Regions from separate parts of the Homo sapiens genome. Here region 1 is linked to region 2. Evidence: fine-mapped expression QTL. Tissue or cell type: whole blood. Region 2 holds a variant in brackets; the other region holds the start of a gene. All regions are shown on one strand. Distances are from middle to middle.

What was found. PIP is the estimated chance that this variant, and not a neighbour inherited with it, causes the effect.
Region 1: it holds the start of AMMECR1L, and the variant in region 2 is fine-mapped to the expression of AMMECR1L in whole blood (TOPMed, PIP above 0.99).

What each region holds. Positions count from the first base shown.
Region 1 is chr2:127,884,471-127,887,150 of GRCh38, reverse strand. AMMECR1L (AMMECR1 like) reads left to right here and starts at 1,195. Exons shown (of 8, transcript NM_001199140.2): 1 at 1,195-1,341. It overlaps LOC107985944 (a long non-coding RNA gene), which reads right to left and starts at 33. Exons shown (of 2, transcript XR_001739707.2): 1 at 1-33. It also overlaps the pseudogene LOC107985803. RefSeq lists silencers at 315-364, 1,075-1,244, 1,255-1,304 and enhancers at 595-854, 865-944, 729-1,324.
Region 2 is chr2:127,797,087-127,799,766 of GRCh38, reverse strand. The region is part of intron 1 of WDR33 (WD repeat domain 33); the gene reads left to right. It also overlaps the pseudogene RNY4P7. Among named protein-coding and RNA genes, the nearest start is that of WDR33, 13 kb to the left of the region's middle. The variant C/T (reference allele first, on the strand shown) is at 1,633.

The DNA of each region.
Region 1 (2,680 bases), 87 kb before region 2:
TTGCTCTAGAACATGGCTCGCCTTTGCTTCAGGGCCTAGCAGTTTATTTTAGCCATAAGGGTAAGGGAGCAGGTCAGAAATGACTTTTAGTGTAATCCTATCTGTAATTAAAAATACAAATGCTGTCATAAGATCAAATGTTATCAAAAATCAGTATTTAAAATTAAATTTACCCCCAAATTTCTTTCAAAAAAAATTTGTAATGTTCTTTTTCAGTGAAGCCTTTGCACTGCTAGAGCTGAAGAATGTGATCAATCGGCTTGTTGAATAATCCTGCACAGTAGGTATTCCGCTGAAGCCAACTCTAGCTGGGGGCTCGAGAGCGAAAGACACAGATGGGGCCCTGCCGCCCCTCGAAGAGTCGGATGGGCGCGCCCGTCCCCGGTGCATCAAGAGGCTGGCCCGGCCAGGGGCGAGCGGCTGGCACCGAACCCCGCGCACTTCGCCGCGGGCGGGGCTGGGCCGTAGTCGGCTCGATTTAAGGCTGGTATCCAAGGCTGCGGCCGGTCAGGCGAGGCGAGGCGAGGCGACGTGAGCGAGGGTGCTTAGGGAGAACAGCCGCTGGCAGCTCAATGCTGGGTGGCTAACGCTCGACGGTGCCTGGCAGCAACCCGGCCGACAACCCGACGCGGATCCCGAGCTGCGTCGCGGACAATGCTGCGGGCCCGTCCCGGACTACGACTCCCGACGGGCTCTGCGACCGCTCCGGGGCGGCCCAGCGTGCACTGCGCCGGCCAGTTTTGACAGCCGGGCGCCCTACTCGGCTAGCTCTGCTCCCAGCCAGGGACGCTGGCCTTCTCGCGGCTTTCCCCCGATGTCTCTCTTTATTCCAGCTGCCTGAAACTCGGTCCCACGAATGGCAGGCAGCGTCCAAAATTCAACCCCGTAAAGCCAGCACCAGCCAATAAAGCGCACGGATGGAGGCCACGTGACAGCAGTGGGCCGGCCCTCCGGCTGAGCCCTGATCTCTATGGTTTCCGCGGCTCGCTAGAAGGAGTGTGGTCCACTGGAGGACTCCCTACATTCTTCCTCCATTACCTCACTGCCTCCGGTGGCTGCTGGGATACCGGAGGACTCGGGTCCCGGCTCGACTCAGTCCTCCAGCCGCCCGGGGAATACCTCTAGTTCTTCCCGGCCGCCGCCGCCGCCGCCGCCCCGCCGCTTCCTCCTCCGCCCGCCGGCCTCCTTCGCCCCGCCCCGTCCGCGCAGCGCGTCCGGCCCGCCCGCAGGCCAGCTTCTCTCGGGAGCCCCCACCCAGGCGCATGGCTCCATGAAGCAAGAGGAGGAGGCAGAGCGCGAGAGGTCCCGTCCGCCCCAGCCGCGTCTGGGCCAGGAGAAAAGGTGGGAAACTCGGGCTGCGCCGCACCCTTCTCCCCGCTGCCGGGCCAGGCCTCCCTCGGTCCGCCGCCGCCTTGCCCGCCGGGCCTGTTCTCGCCGGGGCGGGCGGCGGGGCCGGGAAGAGACCCCGCGGTCCTGGGGCGAGGGTCCGGGGGCAGCGGGGGGGAGGAGTCCCGGGCGGCGGGCGGGGCCTCAGGCCATGTCCCAGCGGAGGGCAGGGGGTCGGGAGGCACTGCCGGGGAGGGGCGGGCGGCGCCGTGCCCCGGGCCGCGAGGCTCGGCTCCCGCTCCTGGTCCTTGTCTGCACTCCCTCCAGGAAGCAGGCTCGCTCGCTGTAAAGTTTGGTGGTCTCCGGCGCCGCCTGGTGGCCCCCACCCACCGTCCCGCCGCCCCGCCGCCCCCTCCCCCGCCCGGCGTCTGGATTCCACCCCCGCGGCTCGGCCCAAGCTGCTCTACCCGTCGCTCCATCGTCTCCCCAACTCCCCAGCGCCCCGGACCCTCTTTCCTCATACCCTCGTTTCTCACCTTTCACCCTGTCCCTCGGCCCGCTTTTCCCCTCCCCGCTCTGTCCTGTCGTTTTCTTAACACTCTTCACACGCGCACTTTCTCCTCCTCCTCTTCTCTTTTTCGCACCCCTACTCTTGGGCCCTCCTTCCTTAACCTCCGCTGGCCCCCCATTCCATGATCCGTCCACCTGACACGCTGGGTTTCATGCCTCTCTTTCCCAGGCTGTGGGTTGTGCCCTTCACTCCTTGCCCTCCTACATTCCCTGTCCTGATCTGAACTCCTCTCCTTGCCATGCTCCCTCACCCTTATCCCTCTGGGCCTTATCCTCTTTCACTGCCCTCTCCTAGGATAGAGTGGGTGGGGCCTCTCCCACCCACAGGAGATGTAAACAGTCTCCTGTTTACTTACATCTTTGGGAGTAGCTCAATTCTCTAGTAGTGGGGAGAGTTGGTGAAGAGATCAGGAAGAGATTTCTTCGAGACTAAGGATGGATGACCCTTAGCAACAGTGACCGTCTCCTCCCGGCATAGCAAGATGGCCTGCCCTCAGGTCCCTGCCTCTGGCGTGCTGTCCAGTAATTCTTCAGTTCTGTCTTTGCAGAGGATTGGGAAATTTATTTGTGTTCTGAAACCGGCGGAGAGCTTTTAAATGGTCTCTTCTGGCCTGAGAGCAACTTTTGCTCTGCATCTGTGGTGGGGAAGTTTTAATGTGCGTCTCATGCTCGAGTTCAATAAATAAAACCTTTGATTCTCAGTGTCCTCCCTTCTTGCTGATGACGCTAAGGATGAGATGATTCAGGGCATGGGACTTCACGGCTGCCTCAGATTTAGAGTTTG
Region 2 (2,680 bases):
TGGAACCACTGTTCCTGGTGCTCATCGTGGTTTTGTTTTGCATTTTTCTATTGATGCGATTCTCCTGCTTCAGCCTCCTGAGTAGCTGGGATTACAGGTGCCTGCCACCATGTCCGGCTAATTTTTGTATTTTTAGTAGATATGGGGTTTCGCCATGTTGCGCAGGCTGGTCTTAAACTCCTGACCCCAAGTGATCCACCTGCCTTGGCCTCCCAAAGTGCTGGGATTACAGGCGTGAGCCACCGTGTCCAGCCTGTATATCTTCTTTGGAGAAATAACTATTCACATTCTTTGCCCATTTAAGAAATTGGGTTATTTCTTGTTATTATTGAGTTTTAAGAGTTCTTCGTGTATTCTGGATGCAAGTCTCATCGGATACATGATTTGCAGAAATTTTTACCCTTTTTGTGGATTTGTTTTCCTTTTTTTAACTTTTTTTCCCAAGTCATGTGTAGGAAGACAGTGTTTTGATTTTTTTATGGTGTCATTGAAGCAAAGAAGTTTCCAATTTTGATTATGTCCAATTTACCTACTTTTTCTTTTGTTTATTGTGCATTGGTATTACATCTAAGGCAGCTTTGCCTAACCCAAGGTCCTGAATGTATTCTCTGTATTTAATGCAGTTGGCAATTGGTTAAGCAACTGATTTTTCTCATTTGAGAATGTAGATTCTCCTCCATTGGTATAAATGTGAATATGAGTTTGACTTTTTTATTAGAAAGCAGCTATAGTGAGTTTGACCTTGTGGTTAGAAAGCTATAAGCTTTTGGCTGGTCCGATGGTAGTGGGTTATCAGAACTCATTAACATTAGTGTCACTGAAGTTGATATACAACCCCCAACTGCTAAATTTGACTGGCTTAAAAAAAAAAAAAGAAAGCTATAAGCTTTAGTTTTGGTCTAATAAAAGCAGTTTTCAATAACTTAAATTTTACTTAGTAGAGGGAGGTTCAAGTAAAAATTAAGGACAGGTTTCATTGGTGAATTTTTTTTCACGACTTTTTTAGATATTTGTTTAACTTTCAGTTCATCGTATCTCTAATAACACTGTTTTTTTTGAAATCTAAACTGACTTGTTTGGAGGGAAATATCAAACTGTTAAGATGGTATGTGTCATAAGGTAATTAAAAGACATCATAAATTCCAGATATACTGAGGAACTAGTTAACTGGTTAGGCTTTTAGGTCTGTGTAGATAGTAGAACTAGAACCTGAGAACCATAGTTCTGAAATCAAGAGGCTCATAAAAGCTTAAGCTTATCATTTTATCTTGCTATTGACAGATTTGAAATATTCAGGGCCAACCAGCTCTTTAGGATTGTTCCTTTGGGAATGATTGTCTTTTCCTATTTTGTTAAATGCTTTTAAATTCATTTTTTTTTTTTTTTTTTTTTTTTTTTTGCGACGGTGTCTCGCCCTGTTGCCTAGGCTGGAGTGCAGTGGCACGATCTTGGCTCACTGCAACCTCTGTTTCCCAGGTTCAAGCGATCCTCCTGCCTCAGCCCCCCTGGTAGCTGGGATTACAGGCATGTGCCACCATGCCCGGCTAAATTTTGTATTTTCAGTAGAGACAGGGTTTCACCATGTTGGCCAGGCTGGTCTTGAACTCCTGATCTCAGGTGATCCACCTGCCT[C/T]GGCCTCCCAGAGTGCTGGGATTACAGACATGAGCCACCACGCCCGGCTTAAATTCATTTGTTAAGCAAGGTTTAAGAAAGGAATTTTGGAAATTTCCTACCTGCTTTCTACATAATCTTTTGAGATGGGGTCTCACTCTGTCACCAGGTTGAAGTGCAGTGGTGTCATCTTGGCTTACTGGAACCTCGACTTCCTGGGCTCAAGCAGTCCTCCTGCTTCAGCCCCCTGAGTAGCTGGGACCCACAGTTGTGTACCACCATGCCCGGCTAAGTTTTTGTGTTTTTGGTAGAGACAGGGTTTTGCCATGTTGCCCAGACTGGTCTCGAACTTCTGAGCTCGGGTGATCCACCTTCCTCAGCCTCCCGAAGTGTTGGGATTACAGGCTTGAACCACCGTGCCTGGCCTGTTGGCTTGTGATCTTGAAATTATGAAATTATTTTGCCTCTAGAGATCATCAAATCTAGACCCTTTAATTTGAAGATAAACAACACTGGAGAGATTAAATTTGTTCATAATTACAGAGTGGCAGAATTCAGGTCACCTGAATACCAGTTTAGTGTTCCCACTTTTACAAAAAAAGCCACTAAAACATTTCATAATATAGCTTGGAGGGGTTTTTTGGCTTAATATCTTTTTTTGTGTGTGACGTAGTCTTGTTCTGTCACCCAGGGTGGAGTGCAGTGGTGTGATCTTGGCTGACTGCAACCTCTGCCTCCTGGGTTCAAGTGATTCTCCTGCCTCAGCCTCCTAAGTAGCTGGGATTACAGGTGTGCGCCACCACGCCCAGCTAATTTTTGTATTTTTAGTAGAGACGGGGTTTCACCATGTTGGCCAGGCTGGTATCGAACTTCTGACCTCATGATCTGCCTACCTCAGCCTCCCAAAGTTCTGGGATTACAGACACGAGCCACTGCGCCTGGCCTGGTTTAATGTCTTTGAGAGAGAGCTAACATTTATCAGTTATATTTTGTAGCTAAAAGGTATAAAATAGGAAAATCATCCATCAGGAATCAACTGGTTACATTAATTATTTTGTGATTTGCAAGG